Homo sapiens: one gene and its partner. The protein of the gene in region 2 interacts with the protein of the main gene of each other region in a pairwise test. Each region holds a gene or a part of one and is shown on either strand. Other genes may lie near its edges.

Region 1 (12,456 bases), on a different chromosome or scaffold from region 2:
ATGGTATCTTACTATGGTTTTAATTTACATTTCTCTGATGATTACTGAAGCTGAGCATTTTTTTCATGTTTGTTGACTGCTTGTATGTCTTCTTTTGAGAATGCTTTTTCATGTCCTTTGCCCACTTTTTAATAGGGTTATTTGGTTTTTGCTTGTTGAATTAAGTTCCTTATAGACTCTAGATATTACACCTTTGTCACATGCATAGTTTGCAAATATTTTCTCCCATTCTGTAGGCTGTTTACTCTGTTGATAGTTTCTTTTGCTGTGCAGATGCTCTTCTGCTTAATTAGGTCCCACTTGTCCATTTTTGGTTTTGTTGCAATTGCTTTTGAGGATTTAGTCACAAATTCTTTCCCAATGCTGATTTTCTTCTAGGATTCTTAGAGTTTGAGGTCTTACATTTGAATATTTAATCCACCTTAATTTTTGTATATGGTGAAAGGTAGGGGTCCAGTTTCATTCTTCTGCATAGGGCTAGCCAGCTATCCCTGTACCATTTATTGCATAGGGAGTCCTTTTCCCATTGCTTATTTTTATCGACTTTGTTGAAGATCAGATGGCTGCAGGTGTGCAGCTTTATCTCTGGGTTCTCTATTCTGCTGTCTATGTGACTGTGTGTGTACCAGTACCATGCTGTTTTGGTTACTGTGGCCTTACAAAATAGTTTGAAATTGGGTAATGTGATGCCTTCAGTTTTGTTAGTTTGCTTAGGATTGGTTTGGCTATTTACGCTCTTTTTTGGTTCCATATGAATTTTAGAAGAGTTTTTTTTTTCTAATTCTGTGAAAAATGATGTTGATAGTTTGATAGTAATAGCACTCTGTAGATTGCTTTGGGCAGTTTGGCCATTTTAATGATATTGATTCTTCCAATCCATGAGCATGGAATGTTTTTCCATTTGTGTCACCTAAGATTCCTTTTGGTAGTGTTTTGTAGTTCTCGTTGTAGAGATCTTTCACCTCCTTGGTTAGATGTATTCCTAGGCATTTTATTTTTTGTTTGGTCTTTCTTAATGCAGGTAAACATACTATATACATAGCAATACTACTTTCAGCTATTTATCCAAATGAAATGAAAACATATGTCCACACAAACATCTGTATGCAAATATTCACAGCAGCTTTATTCATTAATAGCCCCAAACTGGAAACACATATGTTAATCAACTAGTGGATGAATAAACAAATTGTGGTATATCCATACAATGAACTACTACTCAGCAATAAAAAAGGAACCAGTTACTGATGCATACAACAACAAAGGTGGATCTCTGTTGTGCAGCTTTGAAATGATTACAAACACATAGTCTGCTATTGTGAGTGAAATTTTCTGCTGTGATAAGAACATGGAGTGTAATCTCCCTCCCTGATGACATGGCTCCTAGCATTGAAAATCTTGTTGTCATCATGGATCTCCACTGTTGGTCTGATCATCTCTCCAGAGAACATCTCATAGAAAGGTACACCTCAAACTTCAATTAGACTACATTCACAGAGGCCTGTTTCCATCCTAAATGCGCAACTAGACTTTACTAATTTGACTCTAAATGAAACTAGTATTCACTCACATGTGGTTTCTGGACTTTGTCTATCAAACGTGTTCCCTGTGAGATGTGTTCTTGTTATTCTCCCTCTCTAAACATTGTGAAAAAGGCAGGGAAAATTCTTTCTGTATGGTAATAAACTGCGTGATTTGTGAAATCATACCTTATTTTAACCACATAAAACGATCTCAAAATCATTATGCTGAGTGAAAGAAGCCAGACCTGAAGGACTACACTTAACTTACTGTATCATTCTATTTTATATGACATTATGGAAGAGGCAAAACTATAGGGATAAAAAACAGATTGGTGGTAGCCAGGAGCTAGAGAGAGGGAACTGACTGCACAGGGGCATGAGGAAAGTTTTTGGGGTAAAGGAAATATTCTATGTCTTGACTATGGTCATGGTTTCATGACTGCATACATTTGGTGAATTTTATCTGATACAAATTATACCTCACTAAATCTGATATTTAAAAAATTAAAAAAAAAACCCAACCAAGAAAAAAGAGTTAATATTCAATTTTCTAAAAAATGCATTAAGAATTTGCCCTTTCTTATGCCCTTTTAAGGTTGATGTGGTGCTTTAAGAAGCTAACATAGAAGGATAAAGTAAGTCTCTACAAAACCCAGAGAAGAGACTGGAAAACTCCTCTCTGGATCCTGCCTGGAGTCACAGCTGTACCAGGAAAAAAAAAAAAAAATTCACTAAGAATGAATACCTTGGTAAGGATTTAACAGCATCAATTTCAAATGTCTCTGTTTAGTATTTTACCAGTCACAAAATGCTGATTATGTCCTCACAGGAATAAGTATCTTAGAATATCTCTGTCCAGTAACCTTTGATTATTCTTAAAAAAAACAACAAAGGAGGCCAGGCACAGTGGCTCATGCCTGTAATCCCAGCACTTTGGGAGGCCGAGGCTGGCAGATCACCTGAGGCCAGGAGTTCAAGACCAGCCTGGGCAACATGGTAAAACCCCGTTTAAATACAAAAATTAGCCCAGCGTGATGGCAGGCACCTGTAATCACAGCTACTAGGGAGGCTGAGGCATGAGAACTGCTTGAACTCGGGAGGCGGAGGTTGCAGTGAGCCAATATCACGCCACTGCACTCCAGCCTGGGTGACAGAGACCCTGTCTCCAAAAAAAACAAAAAGACAAAGGAAATCTGAAGGCTTTTCCTAGTTGCCACAATGTTTCATACAAAAGACAACCACAAAGTAAAACTGCATAGGTAATTTCTATCATTTACTAATGGGTGATGTTCCGTAATGCACTCATGTTAGTTATTCAGTACTTAGAACATTATTTCCTCATAGGAAAATAATAGCACTATCGGCACTCACAGTACTCTGGAACCTAATAACCATTTATAATAAATGTTTCTATGGGAAAATTAATTAACATTTCTAACTGAGATAGAACACATCCCTCCTTCATCTGCTCCCTCCTCCCCTTCACCCTCTTACACACACAAAGAACTGCCTCTGAAGCTCTAGAAATCCTTTTCCTATCAAACACAACGCCAAAAGGGATAATTCTAAGTAGCTGGCAGTGTGGCTCATGTAGCCTTACTTTTCTAAAAGCCTGATATGAAAAACGGGTCAAGGGACACACAGGGCAGAGAAGGGGAAAGACATAGCTGAGGATGGAGGTGAGAAGGAACAGAGATGTGTGCTTACGTATATGTGTTGGCAAAGGGGTTGAAAAAATCCACAGTAATTGGATTGTTTCATTTTCTTCTCACTGTCAGTAGCTGAGTTAGATACAAAGGATGGTAAAGTTCTGTTTGTAATGAATTAACCTTGGCTGAGATGAAAAAGGCATAGTAGGAAACAGCCTATGTACAGGTAGTCTCCTTGACAGAATATAATCATGTTTTATCTTCCCTTGAAAAACAGAACCAAAGACCATATTGATTTGTTTAAACATGCTGATTTAAAATGTACCAAAGATTATTTTGAATGAAGCGAGAGAATGTTTTGATTTATCTAATATCATCAAACTTTTTTCTCTGAGATAAAATAGACTCTCATTCCTCTGTAACAACGCCACGGGGTAAATGAACTAAAGAATATTAAACCTCTTCTGTATTTTCTGATGTAAGAGCCCTCCTTAGGAAAGAGGTAGTGAGAATTCAGGCTGGCTCCGAAGGACAGGAGCTAAGGTGAAAAAGAAGGAAAAAGTGCTTTAAAGGCCTATTACTTAGCAACAGCCCTGGGTTGGGGTAGTATGGTACTCATCTTGCTTGCTCTAGGCCAATTTTGTAAGCACTGGAAAACAGGAGCTCAGCACGTTCCAGTTCTAGTATAAGAGGGGCTAGACATTTTATTTGTATTGCTTGCTACAGGAAGAATGCCCTGGTCATAAGACCACTAATCATAAGAATACTACTGTAAGCCCAGAGATAAGATTAAGAAGGAGGGATGTGATTGCTATACCTACATTTTATTTTGTATTCTTCCACCAAAAAAAAACAAAAACAAAAACAGATCTCTCTTCCTTTTCTGTGCCTGGACTTAAACAGTGCTTAACTCAGTTGCAACATGCATGTAGACCAGGGAAACTAAAATAGGCTGTAAAATCATTTATTCATTCAAAATTCATTTGGCAGTAGTAAAGCATTCATTATTCTAACATTATTTCGCACTTAAAGTGTGCAGAGCTTTTTGCCAGGCTAGTGGTTTTCAGCTTGGTTCTGCATCAGCAATATCTGCTAAGTTTTTGAAAAATATCTATGCTATGGGTTTTACTCCAAACCTACTAAATATATGGGGCAGAGTCCCAGGCATCTGTTTAACTACTTTGAAAAGGTTGGCATCGAGATTCCTTTTTTTTTTCTTGAGACAGTCTCACTCTGCCGCCCAGGCTGGAGTGCAGTGGCGCAATCTCAGCTCACTGCAACCTCCGCCCCCCGGGTTCAAGTGATTCTTGTGACTCAGCCTGCCGAGTAGCTGGGATTATAGGCGTGCACCATCACACCTGGCTAAGTTTTATATTTTTAGTAGAGACAGGATTTCACCATGTTGGCCAGGCCAATCTCAAACTCCCAACCTCAGGTGATCCTCCCGCCTCAGCCTCCCAAAGTACTAGGATTCCAGGCGTGAGCCACTGCGCCCAGCCAGCACCTAGATTCTCAAGTTAACTTCTGCCACTTGATAACTTATTTAACTAGCCTGCCCACACTGATTATACTGGAGTTAGAAAACTACTAGGCTGCTGAATTTGGTCCTCAGAATGCTTTTATCTGGCACAATGTTTTTAAAGGTTTCGAACACACTGTCAAGTTTTACAAATCATACTTCACATAAAACCCCAGGATCTCTGGTTTTAGAAAAGTAAAAGATCTAAAATCTTACTGAAGAAGGTAGAAGTGTCTGACCAAAGAAACATAGTAGTACTGCAGAAACATTACAGTACTGCAGGTCCATGTTGAAGGTCAGTGTAGATTCGGCTCCCATTTATGATGATAGCCATGTACCCCACTGTATGACTTTCTGCAGCAATTTTTGACTGCCTTTGGGGATACATGAGTAGAATGGAACCTTGGATGTGAATTTAAAGTACTGGTAAGAAAGTAAATGCAGTTAATAAAATGAAGGACCATGAAATCTAAGCTGAACAAAGAAGTAAAACAGGTACAGAAATGTAGAGAGGTGAAATACCGAGGTCTGAATGAAAATAAAGACTAGCCAAAATAGCAGTTAATCATAATGATAATGATGATACACATGAAGTGCTTATTCTGTGCCAGTCACTTTAAGCACTTTGCATGTATTAAAGTCTCACTAAAAATCACATAAATTAGGTACCATTATTTTCCCCATTTGAAAGGTGAGGAAACAGGCACAGACAAGCTAAGCAATTTGCGTAAGAAACAACAATGCTGACAAATGACAGAGCTGGGATTCAAATTCTGGCAATGTAGCTCCAAAGGCTATAGTGCTAACCACTATGCTAAAATGCATCTCTAGCAAGCAACTAGAAAGAAAGAGATTAAGATTCAAGAATGAGACATTTAAATTAGTGATTAAATGGTGGAATTCTGAGGTGATGAATTCTAGGGAATTAGGGGAATACCATAAATTATGGTAAACTTGGGGTTTGGGATACACATTAATCAAGTTTTCAAAACAGCACAAATCTCCAAGTAGCATCTATCAGCAGTTCTTAGCTGCAAGCAACAGAAGCTAACTCTGGCTTATGAGGCAGAAAATGAGTTTATTAAAAGCTTAAGAAACAATTTTAAGGCTAAATTTCTAGGAACACCTAATACCACACTACCCAACCAACTGGATGGAAGAACCCTGTCTTTGATAGGAAACACCAGATGCAACAATTAGCTCTGCTGTCATCTAGGAATATCGTAGCCATTGTTGTTGCTGCTGTAAGCTAGAAATACTGCTGCTGCCATGGCAGAACTGTGAGTGGACACTTCAACTCTTCCTTCTTGCATCTCTAACTTCTAAATCAGACAGTGTGAAGGAGGTGTGTCTGACTGGCAGAGCCTAAGTCAGATCCTGCACTCTTGCAAGGGAAACTAGGAAATAAGTTTTTGCTTCTACCTTAGTAAGACAAGGTTCATGATATGGGACATTCCTTAAGCATAAAAAGAGTGTTCAAAATATATTAAGCAACCATCAACATAACTAACATCCACTACAAAGAACACCACAAATAAAGCATTACCAAACAAACACAATTTAGGACAATTTGTGACATACATTTGCTTTAGCTAAGAGATGAGGATGATTCAAAATTGAACCATAACACGAACATATCTTAAAATCTATACATTAATAAAAGGTGTGTGGGGGGACATGGGTAGAAACATGAACACAAACATACAACCCACAGCTTAAAAAATTGATGGCAAAGCCCATTTTTATATTTAAAAAGCAGAAATAGAAACAAGTAAAATGACAGTGAAAACTAATGATGCATTAATAAGGCAGCATCCATCCCCCAAATTTCAGAAAATGTCTGTAAACGTACATGGCAAGATGTATGCAACATCATCCAGTATGCACATGAGAATACTAATCTAGAATTCTAAACAAATTTGAGTTTATGGATACCAACTTCTAGGAATATTTAATAACCCACTTTGCAAATTCCAAGACAGTAAATCTTAGTTATATATAAGAATGAGTCTGTGGGTTTCAGTAAAAACTTGAATTTTTGGATTAGTTCATAGCCCATCAAGGAATTACCAACCAGGCTGCTGGTTTTTATGTTGCATTAAGTTGCCCAGAGTCTCACCTTAGCTTCAATTCTACATGATTTTTTGTTTTTTTTTTTTGAGATGGAGTTTCATTCTTGTCGCCCAGGCTGGAGTGCAATGGCATGATCTCAGCTCACTGCAACCTCTGCCTCCTGGGTTCAAGTGACTCTCCTGTCTCAGCCTCCTGAGCAGCTGGGATTACAGGTGCCTGCTACCACCCCCGGCTAATTTTTGTATTTTTAGTACAGATGGGATTTCACCATCTTGGGCAGGCTGGTCTCGAACTCCTGACCTCAGGTGATCCGCCCGCCTCGGCCTCCCAAAGTGCTGGGATGACAGGTGTGAGTCACTGCGCCCGGCCTAATTCTATATGATTTTATAGGTCCGCTTCTCAACACTCTCAGACTAAGTGTGGTCTGGCAGCAGAGATTCTCAGGAGAAAGAATTTGACTCAGTGTGGGTCACATGCCTACTTCTGAATCAATCAGTTATGGTATGGAATTAGTCACCTGGAACAAATCTGGCTGCTGAGGCCTTTCTCTTGAGGAGGGCCTATGAAGATACTTCCCCAAAGGCCTCATATTTGTTTACTGAAACACCAACAACATCTGAGCCATATCGATAATGTAAAAGCAATCTGTGGTCTTTCTTGACAAACTTTCTTGATGGTCTGAGAATTCAGGTATTTTGGAATACAGGTGAGGTGACACCGTCTAAGGGGGAAATTAGAGTGCAGAGACAGTTGTCCTGATTCACATCATTTCTCTATTTCATAACTAAATTTTTCATTAAGCACACCATCAAGGTTTTTCACACAGCATTACATTCACCAGCACCTCTAGTAACAAATCTATCCTCTATATTTCCTCCCTTCCCATTGCATCAGCTGCAAGAAAGGGAATGAGTCACTGCTCTCTTCCCCATTGCTTTCATCTCATCCTTTCCAAGGTCAACATTGCAGAAGGCAGATAGGCTGAATAATATCATTTAAGAGACTCCTCTTTTCCCAGGGGGAAGGAGATCTTGCATAAGTTTTCCCAAATCATCAGGATAACCTTCCATCAGCTGATCTAAAAATGTTTAGACTAAGAAATTATATTAGTGAAAAAGTTACACTAATTTTTGTGAGATGCATCCTTTATATTGCCAATTATGTATAGTAATGATCATATCATGAAATGTGTCAGATAAACATAAGCTGTAATGTATTTGATTATGACACTTAACTCTGCTTGTGTATGCTCAGTCTTACAGAAGCTCAAGCAGCATGGCCATCAGCCTACAACTTTCAATGCCTTCCCATTGCACTCTGCACAAAATCCAACTTCTTGTCCTGACTAACGGCACCACATTTGATCTAGCATTGTCCATCTCCTTACATTTGTATGCAATCTCCTTAAAGATGTCTTGTTTGCCAACATAGCCCCTAGTCTGAGTATAGAGCCTGAGACAATGCAGGTGGTCAGTAAATATCTGTTGAGTAAATGAATGGCTATCACATGAAGGATGATTTTCCTGTTACTAACTACATCCTAAAGTAATGGAATTGAGTCAGCTTCAAAATAGTATTCACTTATTCCTATAGAGATCAGAAACAATCAGCTTACTGCCAATGCTTGCTCAAAAGGCTCAGAATAAAGTACAACAGTTATAAATATATAACAGGTTATGAATGGCAGCATTTCCTGAGTGTGTTTCTAAGGACACCAGTGCCACAAAATATTTCTTTAAAATAGCGTTCAAAGGTTACATCTTATGCCTAACTGACTAATCATCTCCATTTGGATGTCTAAGAGACATCTCAAATTTAACATGACCCAAACTGATTTGATTTCAGTAAACAATACATACATCCTCCCAGTAGCTCATACCAAAAACCTCTAAGTTTTCTTGACCACTTACTCTTATATCCTCATCTAATCCATTAGCAAATCTTCTTGGCTCTACTTTGAAAGTATATCCAGAATCTCAGCACTTCACACATTTTCAGTGTCACCATCTCGGTCTAAGCCACTATTTTCTTTTCCCTGGATTGTTATAGTTGCCTTCTCATTGGTCTCCCTACTTGGGTCCCTGACCCTCCCCACTTCAGTCTATTCTCAGCACAGTAGCCAGACTGATACTTTTCAAAGGAAAGTCAGATCATGTCACACACCTGCTGAAAATCCTCCATGGTTTCCTTTCTCACTCAGAATGAAAGCCAGTCCTTTTGATGGCTTGCACGGCCCTACCTGAACGGGACTCTGGTTATCTTTCTTTTTTTTTTTTCGAGACAGTCTTGCTCTGTTGCCCAGACTGGAGTGCAGTGGTGTGATCTCGGCTCACTGGAAGCCCCGCCTCCCAGGTTCACGCCATTCTCCTGCCTCAGCCTCCCAAGTAGCTGGAACTACAGGTGCCCACCACCACGCCTGGCTAATTTTTTGTATTTTGTTTAGTAGAGACAGGGTTTCACCATGTTAGCCAGGATGGTCTCGATCTCCTGACTTCGTGATCCGCCCGCCTCAGCTTCCCAAAGTGCGGGGATTACAGGCGTGAACCACCACGCCCGACTGACTCTGGTTATCTTTCTATACTCATTGCCTATTACTTTGCTCCAGATAACTGCATGCAAAGGAGGCTTCTACCTCAGGGCCTTTGTACTTGCTGTTCTTCCACTTGATTGAGGAGGTCTTTCTTGCCTATACTTCATAAAATAAGAAATCAACTCCAGCCCCAGATCAGTTTTCTCCAGTCCCTTTCATTGCTTCATTTTCCTTTATAATATGTATCACTAACTGTCACGTTTGCTATATTTGCGGAGTGTCTGCATCTGCTGTCTAGAATGTAAGCTCTATAGGGGCAGGAGTTTTGTCTCATTAACTGCCATGTTCCTAGTACAAAGCCCGATCAAATAAGTCATGTGTCTGAGTGTGTATGCTGAGGTGGGGGAGATATTTCAGAAACAGTATTCCTTGGAGTTTGGGAACGAAAAAAAGAGTTGGAACTTGTAGCCTTCTGACCTTTAGCTCACAAAACAGAAATACTTTAACAGGTACAAGATGAAATGACTCAATATTTAAAATACTCAACTATATTCTACACGAAACTGGCTATTTCTATAACTTAATTTCCTAACAGCTTTAAAAGTTACTACAGATGAGATGAAAAAGAACAAGTCATCTTTCTGAGCCTGAGATTCACCTGTAAAACACTCACGCCAGGCATTGCTGGGAGGAGTGCAAATGATCACTTACTCTGTGTCTAAGATTGACACCTGATTTCTTTCCTATAGATATAAAATATTTTCATTTCAACTCTTCTTTAAAAAGGAAAAATTGTGGTTTTTTTCTTACAACTGCAAAATTTGAGGAATTAAACCATTCTAGACTCCTCTTCAGTGCCCCATCTTTATCCCTGTTCCACAACCACTATCCTATTGTCAGCATGAGACAAGCTCAGCTGCACCAGAATGGTAGAAAATGTCCTTAGAACTCGTAGGGATATTAGATATTATCCTGACCTGTAACTTTCACTGAGGAATAAGAAAGAAATGTATCAGAATGAGGAGGAAAGTGTTTGAAAAACACATTTAAGGCCGGGCGCGGTGGCTCATGCCTGTAAATCCCAGCACTTTGGAAGGCCGAGGCGGACGGATCACCTGAGGTCAGGAGTTGGAGACCAGCCTGGCCAACATGGTGAAACCCCGTCTATACTAAAAATACAAAAATTAGCCGGGCGTGGTGGCGGGCGCCTGTAATTCCAGCTACTCGGGAGGCTGAGGCAGGAGAACCGTTTGAACTCGGGAGGCGGAGGTTGCAGTGAGCCGAGATGGCGCCACTGCACTCTAGCCTGGGCAACAGAGCAACACTCTGTCTCCAAAAAAAAAGAGAAAAACACATTTAGTATTATACTTTTTTTTTTCAGAGGAGAAAACCCCTAAAGATTTGGTAAGAGAAGGAAAAGTTCAACATAATTTTCTTGGTTGATGGGGGTGCACTAAAGATACTGAGACTCAACCAAAGGAATATCCCATTAGGGGGCTGTGAAATTTTTGTGTTTATCAAAATAAGGTAAAAGCTTTTTTAAGAGCCTGAGAAACTCTTATTTAGACTAACCCACTAAAAATATTCACAGTTTAAAAAATAAACAGAAAAAGAGTCCCAAAAAAGTTAATAGACATGTCCAACTCAGAAAACTGGGAAGTGGCTCAAACCCTTCTGAGTTCTAGTCCAGTTCTCCAACATTATATATTGGCTACGATTAATCAAGATTTAATTGTATACCAGCTGCCGAAATGTTTCCCGTACAATAAAAATCCTCAATATGAAATAAAGGTTTCATATTACTAGTCGAGTTCTTTACTAACAAATTTCCGACCTTGCCTCCCATATCCACATCTAAGAAGGGAGGTATATCTCTTCAGCATTTACTAAATGCTTCTTTTGCATACCATTAAGTCACTTAATACAATTCTGCCGGCTCAATGGTACTGTACCCACTTTGCAGACGACAAGCCGAGGCTAGATGAAGTTAATCATAAAATCAGCGGCATTGAAACTTAACTCAGTGTAACCCCAAAGCTCCCTCTACACCAAGCTGCTCCCTGTACGGCAACAGAACTCCTGGAACTTGTCCGCAGAGAATGAGCAGGGCCCTTGCTTTTTTATGGTCTTGGCCAGGTTTAGCCTGCCTTGTAACCCGCAGGTAACAGAGCTATGGAAATCAAATGAATCGCTGTCAAGTCGGTGCAAGATTACTATTCAGCACATTTCATGAAGACCTGGTCTCAACTGAACAGACTGAAAACCAATTTCACAATTTCTTTGCAGTGTCTCTTAGAAACTAGCCACTGTCACTGCTTAGAAAATCGGGGGACTGCTCCCTCAAGTGGTCAAAACGGGCCTCTCACTAGAGCTCGCTACTTGTTTAGCCGGTATAAGGCCAGTCACACAATCCTGCAAATTTCCCGCAACCTCCCGAAGGGGTCAAAGCCCACGCCCCAGCAAAAGCACAGGCGCTCCCCGCCCAGCGAAGACATGCGCATGCGCCTATCCGTCTTCTCCCAAAGCAACCACCACCTGGTGGCGCCACTTCCCCCCACGCCTGTTTCACCCATTCAGCCCTCTCTTTCGAATACCTTTGTCCAATTCCATAAGGGCAGAGTTGGCATCCAGTTCCTGTTCGCCATAGCCGGCATCTGCCAGGAAAGACTTAGTTGAGTTTGACGCCATGACCCGAATAGTTACTCGACTAGCCTAGTCAGAAAGCTTGCAAACTCTACCCCAGGACCGCCATCTTCCCCCGCCGCCTTCTTGCTGGTTTTTCTTCCGCGCGCTGTCAAGCCCTGTTACGCATGCGCCCTGGTCACCCCGCGGTTTGTCCGCGCCTCTGCTACCCCCTGCGCAGGCGCTCAAGGAGCTCTTGGACTCCAGGTTCCCGCGGCTGGGAGAAAAGGAGGCGGGGATCCGAAGGGGGAAATGACTCTGAGGCGCCCGGACGTCGCTCGGAAGCCAATCAGAGAGCGTGACGTCAGTTTGGCGCGGAGTTTGGCGGCCGGGGCTTACAGTGGCGGGAGTTGGAGGCGATAACGATTTGTGTTGTGAGAGGCGCAAGCTGCGATTTCTGCTGAACTTGGAGGCATTTCTACGACTTTTCTCTCAGCTGAGGCTTTTCCTCCGACCCTGATGCTCTTCAATTCGGTGCTC
Region 2 (12,456 bases):
GCAGGGATAGGGAAACCCAAATTTCAGTATCTGTGAGCATGAACTAAAAAACAATGAATTATCTAAGCCTAGATTTATAAAGTGAAGTTGCTCCTTGGAGAACTGCACTTCATCCTATTTCCCAGAACAATCTAAAAAACTTTTAATATATGGATCAGAAAGGTTTGTAGATATTCAGAACCACAGTGCAAGCTCACTTCACCTTCCTCTTCAATAAACATCCATTCTGTGGATTTAAGAATGTATGAAACGTTTCTAAACAACCTCACAACTCATTCCTTTCTCTTGGCTGTCCAAATTTGGTCTTAAGAAAAACCAGGAAGGAGACCAGGAGTCTACCCACTGTGTACCCCACCTCCCAAACCAAAATGAAAAAAGAGAAAGAGAAAATACACCCCTTGCCACCCCCAGCAACAGTGGGACCCAAGGCCTCAACAGGTGAGCTCTATAACTCCACTTCTAAAACAAAGTGATAAAACTGTCCTAGAAAAGGCTCAGCTCCACGTGGCTAAGGAAAAAGAAAGAGGAGTGTCATGAAATGAAGCACATGTGAAATGGGAAAGAGGATTCTTAAAACTCCTTCCCCAAAACCCCTTTATCACATACACTCAGAACACACACACACAAAGGCACACAGTATTTCTAAAACTGCTCTGTTACAAAGCAGCTTACTAGTTCTACTAGTAAACAGCAGTCTACTAAGTACTGTCATATGGAAATGAATGATACAGCTTGTAGCTGGTCTTGACAGTGATTTCAGGGAACCATAAAGAGATCCATGCTTCAAAAATATACTCCCCGCATGACCAATGCTCAAAACTTCCTTAACAGCAATGAACCCTTTCACTTAAACTTGGAGACGGTTTAAGTGAAACACTGTGGAAATTCAAACTGCACAGACCCATGTTTTGATAGGGAGAACTTCAAAATCCAGGGAAGTTTACTAATCCTTCCAACAGATATTGTTTTGATCATCTACTACCTTGTACCAGGTACTGTATTAAGTATTTAGAATACATTGATTTTGACAAAACAGACAAAATTCCCTGGCCTTGTAGATCTTACATTCTATTATCCTGAAGTGTAAATTCATATATTTATCAAGATCATATTTTTTCTGAGTCCTATCTGGTTACTACACAGGTTTATTAACTGTCATGTCATGACAGTCAATACAATTACAATAAAGTAATTATATTCTATGGTATGAAAGGAACACTGAGAAGGGAAGTGTTTTGCCCCAGCCTGGTTCTCCAGGGAGAGGTGACAAAGAGGTGGCTGTCAGCCAGGAACCAGGCTCTGGGTACCTTTCACTGTTGCTGCAGATGAATAATCCAAAATAAACCACACTAAAGTCATATAGCCATACAATGCCATAAAAAATGACAAAATTCTCAATTCAGAGTTTTACGAGGTGCCAGGTAAGAGCATTACCTGTTCATCCCCCAAGAATGATTGTGTTTATGGACTAAAAATAAATAGCAGCTTCTATTTTATCCATCTGGTAACCCTCTTCCAGCATTATTCTCCCTTTTTACTGCTTACATTTTTTTAAATAAAAAAACAAATCATCTCAGAAGGGGTAGCCTTTTCCTACATTTATGAAAATCAAATTTTGCTGAGTGATATTGGGTCACTACATGGCAGGTTTATTAGTTATGATGTCATCTGGTTCAATAAAGTTACAATGAAAGAACATGAAACTCCTACTGATGACAGGCTGAATTTTTTTAGAAAAGGAACTTGTGAAAAGAATATAAAATAAACTGATGCCATTGCCACAGCCTCCATTTTCTTTAATGCTCTTTAATACGCTTGGCAATTGCATTTATAAGACATAAACAAGAGCTCCCTGAGGAAGCTTTTGTAAGATCTGAAAACCCTATAAAGACATGATGTATATACATTTATCTAAATCTATCTAAGCTTCTACAATCCTTTGCTGAAAACAAATTTACCAGATAATTCAAAGGCTAGTGCTCAAGCCTTATTCCTTTTCATTTGACTTCAAAGCTAAGTTTTGAGATCAACTCGACACCTGGCCCTGTGCTGGCCACTGAGTGTATAAAGCGAGGAAGATCCAGCCTTGGTGTTGACTGGGCAGTCTCAGTGGTTAAAAAAGTAAACTGAATAGTCTAAATAGAACACATCAAGAGCAGGAAAGGGTAGCAGGAGGGCATCCAGCAACGGACAAGCCAATAACAAGCATGAATCATAAAGTCAGGTAAGATGTTCCCCAGAAGATACCAACTCAGCTGAGTCTTGAATAAGCTGAGAGGTGAAAAGTGCATGGAGAGTAGAGCGAAGAGCCTGAGAAATATTCTGAGACATGAAGCAGCTTAAGAGTGTTCTAGGAGAATAAAATCAAAAGTTAGCTACAGTCAAGGTGGGCATGAGGAGGAGACATGCAGCCTATGCTTACGAGCTGGGATTTCTCCTGTCCAGAACCATTGAGGGCTTTTAATCAGGGGACTAACATGATCATATCTGCAATTTAAAGTATTATTCGTGCAGTATCTGCACAGATGACAGAATAACAAAGGGTAAGCCTAACCAGTAAGAAAGCTGCTATCATGCCCAGTTACAGATGGTGAGGCCAGGAGATGAAGCCTGCAGAGCCACACCGTCAACACAGAGGAAACCCCACACCAGTGGGTCCCTGGTACACCACCCGAAGGATCCAAAGGATTCATTCTTATTTTATTTACTTACTTACCTACTTATTTATTTATATACGTCTTTTTGAGATGGAGTCTTGCTCTGTCATCCAGGCTGGAGTGCAGTGGTGTGATCTCGGCTCACTGCAACCTCCGCCTCCCAGGTTCAAGAGATTCTCCTGCCTCAGTCTCCCTAGTAGCAGAGATTATAGGTGTGCACCACCATGCCTGGCTAATTTTTGTATTTTTACTAGAGACGGGGTTTCACCATGTTGGCCAGACTGGTCTTCAACTCCTGACCTCAAGTGAGCCACCTGCCTTGGCCTCCCAAAGTGCGTAGATTACAGGCATGAGCCACCATGCCCAGCTCCAAAGGGTTCATTCTTAATGGATTTAAAGACTTTATAACCTCAAAGTAACTTTTAAGAAATTCCAATGTTATCTCTAAAACTTCCCCAAAATAGTATCATTTAGTTCTTTTTTTAACATTTGAGGCCTTAAAAGCAAAAATTTTTCAATATTTTTAAACTGTCTTTGGCTTTTAACCTATGGCTTTATTAAATATCTTCAGCTCTTAAGGGTAGAGATCATAACAATAGCACAGAGAGCAGGCCGGGCAAAGTGAAGCACATGCAAAATGATGCAGATGACAGGAACTAACCAGGTAATTCAAATGCACCAAAATTAGCCAATAATAAATACAGTCATTAATCCAGCCAGGTACAGTGGCTCACACCTGTAATCCCGGTTCTAAGGGAAGCCAAGGCGGGAGGATCATTTGAGCCCAGGATTTCATGACCAGCCTGGGTAACATAGCAAGACCCCTGTCTCTACCAAAAATTTAAAAATTAGCTGGGCATGGTGGCAGGCCTGTAGTCCCAGCTACCAGACAGGCTGAGGTGGGCAGATTGCTTGAGCCCAGGACTTGGAGGCTGCAGTGAGCTATGACTGTACTCCAGCGTGGCCAACAGAATGAGAGCCTGAAAAAAAAAAGAAAGAAGAGAGACAGAGAGAGAGAAAAGAAAGAAGGAAAAAGAAGTTCAGCCCTGACATTTCATATAAATAAAAAAGATAGAGCCTCTTCTTCAGTGAAAATAATTTTTAAGATATTTTTGACAATTTCATCTTTAAATCAGCAAGGTTGCCAAGAAACACTGTTAAAAAGTTGCCATGTTTGGGGGGGAAAAGTAGGATTAATAATCATCATCATCTATCCTAAAATTAGTATTGAGAATTACAAGAGACCCAGAAATAAAATATCCTAATTAAAGTTTCTATAATAAGAAACAGTGAAGGGCACAAATGACCTATCTTGATTGGCAATTTCTCCCATAATGATGGTTGATTAAAAATGTCATTACCCTTAAGACATTGCTTGTAGTCAGCTGGAGTGACACTACTGCACAAGTGTGGGCAGTCTCACACATTTTCTCACTACTTAAGTATCAAGCCACTCAGGCTAGAAATCTGTAATTATTTTTTATGCTTACAATCCTCTTTATACCACTGCAAAGATGTTTAATTTTAATTTGCCTGTGTACCTTAAATGTCAAGATTCCTGAGAGACAGTGACCCACTTGTCCTGCTGAGAAGCTAAATGATACATGTGGCAGCCTTAATAAAATTCTCCATGCTCTAGGAGATAATAGGACCAATAGTCTGGTCAGATCACCCTGGAATGTGATGCTTGCTTCAACTCCATGTTAGGAGGGAGGGACTCTGCTACCTTGAAATTTGCCCAGAGCAGAGGTAGAATAGTGACAGGATCTGAAACCGGGGGCTCCATCCAAGCCATCTCTCTCCACTGATCTCCTCCACATCCCTGCTCCACATAACTGACCCATGACATTCTGTAGATTGCATCGCAGAGATCACTCCTGTGTCTTCCCCTCCTTTTCCACTGACACTGCAATGCCTGTGGTTTTGGTTGAGTCTTTTGTACTAACCTTCAAACTGGCTCACACTCTCTCCCAGATCCCATCTCATTCAGTGCTGCCAGCTTGATTTTCTTAAAGCAATGTTCTAATTATGACTTTATCCTACAAAAAAAAAAAAGAAAGGTTCTACTCTTTAGCCTCTGTGCAGAGTCCCTCATGAATTTGCTCCATAATACCCTCTCTATTCTATTTCCTGTTAACCCCCTTTATCATGAACAAATCTCTTCCAGACATACTGAAGGATTGGCCTTTCCTCATACAACCTCTAGAACTTTCCATATCTTATCCTTTGTGCAAGCTGTCCCTTCTTCCCACACACCTCAGGCTCCCCATATCCAAATGCTATTCATCCATCAAGGATTATTTCAAATGCTCTTTCCTCCACAAATCCTTCCCTAAGAATTTCCACCAAAAATAATCTCTCCCTGTATAGCTATAATATATTCCATGACCTACCATTGTATCCTCCTTGAGGGCAGGCTTTGGATCTGATTTATACTTACCTTATCCAAAGCATGTAACTGTTTGCAAAAGATGAAACAAAGATTGCCAACCTCACCCTGCAGGCCAGAGGAAACCAATGAACACGTATGTTTAGTTCACAGGTGCACATCTCCAGTTTCTCCTGACACATTAAACATCTGGCAAAGTAGGCCTGCTCTCTGCAGCTTGCCAGTTCCTGCAGTCCCCACCAGCCCCTACTGTCTTGTCTATTGACACTGCAGATGAAGCAGAGGATCAGTAGCTATTTACAATCTCTTGCTCTCCTGGTTGCTCTCATGTATAGTATTATATCTGCCTGGGTCTAAAAGACAAGTGAGTCTATAATTCCCATAGTAAATTATCAATAAGTAAGTATTGAAGGATGAAAGGCTGTCATGTGAGCAACAGCTGAAAGAACTAAGAATGTCTGAAAAGAAAAATGGCAACTGCATGTTATGACTGCAGTATTTGAAAGTGGAAGTATAATTATATTTGTTCTAAATATGTCCAGAGACTTAAAGAGAGACAATGGCGGAGATCATAGAACTTTTTGACTTTTGGAATTGCTCAAAAGCAAAATGGGTTTTCTTGTGAGAAATGGATTTCCTTCCCTGAGCTATTCAAGCTGCCCACCCACCTGCCAGGGGTCTGAGATGGGAGGCTACACTGGCCCATGCCACTCAGAGAGCCTATCACTGTGGCTCCTTTTCTAAGCTCCTTTGCTCTCTTATGGGGAAAAAGAAGACGAACAAAGTAGCACACAGTCTATGCAGATGCACTGCTCATGGGGTACATGCAGGAGAAGAGGGTTCAGAAGGAAACCTTAAGAAACCCTGTTATTTAAGCACAGTGGAAGATGAAGCACCAGCAGAGAAAAGGCAGTCAAAATTAGGAAGAAGTGTCAGGGAACTGTGTGGCCCAGAGACTAACAGGAGAGAAAACTTCCAAAAATTCCATTTCCAGTGCAGCAGAGTTAAAGTCCTGTAAGAATATAAAAATGCCCATTGGATTTAGGGGATGATGAGTTCATCAGTGACCTTGGCTTGAGAAGTTCCAGCAGAGAGGGATGGGGGCAGGGGCTCATGCCCCTGAAAACCCTCAAATTTATATTAAGGCAGTAACTCCAGATGGGATTATATATACAGGAACAATATCATTACAATTATGTTAGAAGTTTTAGTTTGATAAGTTTAAGCATTTAAATTATACTACAACTGTTCTAAACCTTTTTGGCAATTATTTATGATTTGTTAATATAAACTAAGCAAAAATAAAGAATAAAACAAAATAACTGAGGCCAAAGACAGCCTCAGGGAGGGCTGAGGTTTTAGCACAGTGGTGGTGTGAAGTCAGCTTTAATTTCTAAAAAGAACTGTGCTTCTTGTGTGGATTTTTTTTTTAATTTAAGAAGACAGCCCACTGTATTTGCAGGGGGTACCTCCAGTTAGACAAGGAAGATTGTACTCAAAACATTTATCTGCCCTCCCTCCTCAATTCTCACTAAATGAAGAGGGCACAACTTGCCAGAGCAACATGAACAAGACTGGAGAACAAGAGCAAAAGAGAAATGCCCAAAATAATGGGCGGCGGTAGGGGGGTGGTGCTGGAAAGCAGACAAAGGTAGTGAGTGATTCAGCAAAAAGAGAAAGCTAAAAGCTAAGTAACTACAGGAAGAAGGCCACAAGAGGCAGGTAATTCCTACCGCAGAACCCAGATGCTATGGTTTGAATGCCTGCATCCCCCTCCAAAATCCATGTTGAAACTGAATCCCCAATGCAACAGTATAAGATGTCCAGGAGGTGATCAGGTAAATCGGATGAGGGCTCTGCTCTAAGAATGGGATGAGGCTCTTATAAAAGGGCTCCAGGGAGCCTGTTTGACCCTTCTGCCTCATACCATGTGAGGACGTAGCACCGAAGCACCATGTACAGAGCAGAGGAAGAGCCCTCACCAGACACCAAATCTGTCAGCAGCTTGATATTGGACTTCCGAGTCTCCAGAACTAGGACAAATAAATTTCTATTATTTATAAATTACCTACTCCACAGTATTTTATTATAGTAGCCAAACAGACTAAGACACGAGAAAAGACTCAGGAGGTGGAAGCATTAGAGATACTTCTGAATGTGGCAGTGCAAAGTAGGAAACTGAAAACAGAAAAACAGATTTAAAGTTTTTAAAAGGAGCAGTTAAACCTCATCATGCATGGTCAGGCATGATGATGAGATCCCTGGCAGAAGATGAAGGAAATGTGGACTTGCTAAATGGTAATAGTCTCCTGTCTGTGCCAACAACCAGAAAGCTGGTGGCCAACTTGAGCCATCCCCAACCCCAAAACAAAAACACAAACAGGAAACAAGCATATTCCAGATAAACCAATATAAGCAACAAAGACTCCTCCAACAACATGGCCAGGTCCTTTCTTGATCATGGTACTGTGAAGCCCAACAGCCCTCAATCCCTGCCCAGGTGCACAGAGCTTCTGATCTGCTTCCTAGACTCATTCTTAAATAGGAACGAAGAGCCAAAGATCACTGGACTTTTGAGGAGAACCTCCGAAATAAAAGAGGGATGCCAATATAAATAGAAAAAGAAACCCAGAGTAAACAGAGACAGGTAGGGATAGAAAAGAAGCAATATAGAAAAGAATGAAGAAAGATCATACATTCATGAAATAAATACTGGATGTTGTATTTTTTTTAAAAAAAAAGGTTTTTAATTGCAGCGTAAGTTCAATGTTTTAGAAATTAAAAACAAGAAAGCAGAAAGTAAGAGTTCAATCAAAAGACTAAACGATTAAAAATTGAGGAAATCTACTAGAAAGTAGAAGAGAAAGGGAAGAAGAAAGTGGGAGTTACCAAAAGAGGAGGAAAAAATAAAAATACAAAATTTATCAATGAAATAATATAAGAAATATAAGAAAATTGCTGGTAAATAAAAGACACAATTATCTTGACTGGAAAAACCTACCAAGTGCCCAGCATATAGTGCAGAAACAATCCCACCAAGGCATATGGTTGTAACATTTCAAAACAACAGTAGTAAAGAAAACACTGTAAAAGGTTCCAGAAAGGAAAAAAGAGAAGAGACACATAGAGGGGGTTGAGAAGCAGAACGGCGCTAGATCTTTCAACTGCAACGCTGGAAGCTTCAAGCAATGTAATCATGATGTCAAACATCAAACGAAGTCAAGAATACTTCCAACCCAGACTGCCGCTCCAGGCTAACTCCAATCAAGTGTGAAGTATAATAAAGACACTTACAGACACATAGGCATCCAAGCATGTAGCCCTCACTTGCCCCTTTTCTCAGGAAGTTCCTGGAAGATGAACTGTACAAGCAAATAAACCAAGAAATTCCCTGAGATGACGGAGCAACTCAAAAAAGAGGATGGCACGGCATCCAGAAAACATTCGATCTAACACAGGAGACAAACGAGGGGACTTCCACGGCATCCAGGAAACATCCGATCTAACACAGGAGACAAACAAGGGGACTTCCCAGGCTTGAGGTCCAAGGAGCTGCGAGAAGAGGCTGTTAGGAGAGGCCTGGAGAGCAGAAAAGAAAAGCAGCCTCCACAGGAAAAAGAAAGGACAAGGAGGAGCGAGGGAGGGAAGACAACCTGATGCACGCTAATGTCCTAAGAGAAGATCCGTCATATGTTAGAGAGTTTGCAAATTAATTACCGACAGATAAAAAATTCAATTAACAAAAATGCATTAACTCCAGGAAAATACAAAACACTGTTTAAGTGAGACAAAATATAATCTCAGCTGGAAACAACAGTTGCAGTTGTAATAATAAAAATAATGAGTATTAATTTAAATAAAAATTAATTTAAGTAGACTCCAGGGGAATGAGGCATGAGAAATTACATAATGGATACAATGTACACTATTTGGGTGACAGTTACACTAAAAGCCCGGACTCCACCACTATGCAATATATCCAAGAAACAAAACCGCACTTGTACCCCCTAAATGTATACAGATTTTTAAAATTAATTTAAGTATACAGCGATAATACGAGAGTGAAATCATAAGAAAGAGGGCAATAAGAAAACTGGCCTCGTCCAGGTGCTGTGGCTCATACCTGTAATCCCAGCACTTTGGGAGGCCGAGGTGGGCGGATCACCTGAGGTCAGGAGTTTGAGACCAGCCTGACCAACATGGTGAAACCTCGTCTCTACTAAAAATACAAAAATTAGCTTGGTGTGGTGGCGGGCGCCTGTAATCCCAGCTACTTGGGGAGGCTGAGGCAAGAGAATCACTTGAACCTGGGAGGTGGAGATTGCAGTGAGTCAAGACGCACCATTGCACTCCAGCCTAGGCGACAGAGCGAGACTCTGTCTCAAAAGAAAAAAAAAAAAAGGAAAGAAAATTGGCCTCGTCTTCAATAGTAGAGAGTTCATACATAGCTTACTACCAAAGCATAACAGCATTATTATATTCTTACATTCTTGGAGGTAACCACAGGAGAAACAGCTAGAAAGTTTCAAAGTAGTTGTTACTAGGGAACAGCAGCCGTAGGTGGGGAAGAGCAGGGGATAACCACAGGCAGAAAGAACCACAGGCAGAAAGAGTATTATTCACCTTTTTTTTTTTGAGACGGAGTTTTGCTTTTGTCGCCCAGGCTGGAGAGCAATGGCGCAATCTCGGCTCACTGCAACCTCCGCCTCCCAGGTTCAAGTGATTCTCCTGCCTCAACGCCCCAAGTAGCTGGGATTACAGGCGTGTGCCACCATGCCCAGCTAATTTTTGGATTTTTTAGTAGAGATGGGGTTTCACCATGTTGGTCAGGCTGGTGTCGAACTCCTGACCTCCACTGATCCACCCACCTCAGCCTCCCAAAGTGCTGGGATTACACTTGTGAGCCATCACACCCAGCCTATTCAACTATTTTGTATATATTCTATTTTGATAAAGATAAAACATTATTTAAATAAGCGAATGACAGGGTATATAGAGCTTACAAATGGTTCCTCTGAGGAGCTTAAATATCCTAGGGGAAAAAACAACTACTCAAGACATGGTTATTTTGGTTACTTTTCTTGAGTTTGCAGAAATATTGGAAGGGAAAGAACAATAAGGAGGAAATTATTACCATGACAGAGAGGATAAGGGGAATCTGAAGGAGGAAGGTCTCCAGGGAGGCAGGAAAAAAGGGTTCTGGATCATGAGTATCCAAATCAGGCCTAGACAGAAGTGCAGACACTTCTTCTTCAGTGGGCAGGGGTGGAAGAAGGAGGAAGAGAAAAGCACAAAATGCTAGGTGAGGAAGAAACACACTTCATGGTGAGAGGGCCCAGATGTTGGTCCATAGTCTCTGTTTTAGAGTGAGGCAGAAGATTAAAGAAAATTGTGTTTGAGAAGGTAGCAGAAGAAAATGGTAAGTTCAAATTGATGAAGTAAATTTTATCTCAGAGCAGGACTAGGCACACACAGATGCAGTGGAGTATATGTGCTTAGTCATTGCTCTCTGCTCCCACAACCCTTTGTAACACTTGCCACATCAAGTGTACACTAGTACTTTAAAGAACTGGCTTTTCACTAGGCTATGAATCCTCAAGAACTGTCTTATAAATTTATATGCAACCAATATTGATCATGGCACCTGACATGAAATGTATTTTTGTTTTGTGGATATATAAACATTTATTTCCGGAAGTTCAAAGCATCTCAACACATCAACACACATGTACTTCTTTAAATTGCTTTTTATATGCCAGAACAGTCAGCATTCAATAATTTTACAATATCCTTTAAAAAACAGTAAGTAATGTCCCATCAAAGCTAAACCCACACCCCCAAAAAAATTCAAGTCGAAATTTCCATCTTAAACTGACTCTGACTAAGTACATATAAAGCCCAGTAACTCTTTTGGGCAATGCTCACATGCTGACTAAACTCAGAACAGCGAAGGAGACTACATGAATCTATGACTATCTCATGGATTCTAAATTAAAGCTTAGAAACATTTACAATGAATAAAATAAATCCATAGCTGGAAATCAACAGCTGCCTTGATTAATAACAAACCTAAAGATTTTATAGTTTGAGGTATCAACTTTATCAACTTGGAATTAATTTTCGAGCACAGTCTCTATTTATCAAGTACGTCCTAATATTTCAACATACTTTAATTTTTCCCAAAAGAAAAAGACAGTTATTATTCACTATGAAATGCATGCTATTAATGCTACATTTTTTAAAAATCTGATTTCCTCTTTCCTACGATAAAGCCAAAAACTGATTTCCTTGGTAATTACCTAACAACTTTTGCACAGAACATTTCAGATCCATCTCAAATAGGTTTGCAAGTGGTAGGAGAAGTTTCATGGGATGGAACTTAAATAAATAAATAAATAAATAAATAAAAGGAAGAGGTTTGTTTACCATTTAAATCTCTGGCTGAGTTTAGAGGCTGTTTCTTATTGTTATTAGTTAAAATTATTTTTGGCAAACTAATACAGTAGAGAAAATTAACCTGAGAAGTCTACCTTGAATGCCACGTTATGTCAATAAATTCTAATCTTTGGTTTCACAAAGTAGCAAAACAGAGAATTATGATTATCTAAGTGATTTAAGCTAATCAACAATTTTGGACAAAACGCAGATTACTGCACCTGCATGTACCTGTCCTCATATTTCACAAGGTATAAGGTGATCAAACTAAGGTTTTTCCAGTAACATCATAAGAAGCAGAACAACCGACTGATAATCTTCATAATTTCACTCTTTTGTCCTTTCAAAATTGTTTCAGAAGGTAATTCCCAAAAATGCTTTATATTATAATACAAAGGTATCCTGAAAATAGAGATACGTCAGTTGTACTTTTTAAATTGTGCAAGTTAAATCACAGTTCAATAACTCTACGCTGACTTCTAGTTTAAAAGACCACACAAACATATTTTCTAAAATACCTGATTTTGACTTCAGGATAACCTGAATGGTATGTCCATCATTGGTGACTTCACAGTCTCGGCACACCACATAATTTGGGGAGAGGCGGACATCCAACAGCGAGGGGTCATACCTAGCCTCTCTTGAGTTTAGGTTAATAGGAGACTGGTATTCCCCATTAGCATCAGGAAACACCAGACCCCACTCAACACCTAAGAACAAAATGAAATAAATTAAAAACAGGTTAAAAAATAAATTACAGTAAAATTTAACATGTAAAAACTAAACACTTAGAACCCTTGATATCATGAAGAGAGTAATGATACCATCACTATACAGATGAAATATGGTAATTCTATTTGTTTTTGCATTCATTATTTGAATGATCTGTTATTATCAAATACCATACACAAAATCCCGGACTAGCAAAATATTCTATTTGTATTTGTCAACAAAGACATAATAATTTATGATTCT

Evidence for each region.
Region 1: the proteins of CA8 (region 2) and INTS7 interact in binary tests that used the Homo sapiens proteins (3 or more experiments, as listed by UniProt).

What each region holds. Positions count from the first base shown.
Region 1 is NC_000001.11:212,023,456-212,035,911, forward strand, and holds the start of INTS7 (integrator complex subunit 7), read right to left. Parts: upstream 12,103-12,456; 5' UTR 11,983-12,102; coding exon 11,889-11,982; intron 2,228-11,888; exon of another isoform or gene 2,106-2,227; intron 1-2,105. Other genes in the region: DTL (denticleless protein homolog), read left to right, coding at 12,436-12,456. UniProt on the Homo sapiens protein: Component of the integrator complex, a multiprotein complex that terminates RNA polymerase II (Pol II) transcription in the promoter-proximal region of genes.
Region 2 is NC_000008.11:60,267,690-60,280,145, forward strand, and holds part of CA8 (carbonic anhydrase-related protein), read right to left. Parts: intron 12,192-12,456; coding exon 12,000-12,191; intron 1-11,999. UniProt on the Homo sapiens protein: Does not have a carbonic anhydrase catalytic activity.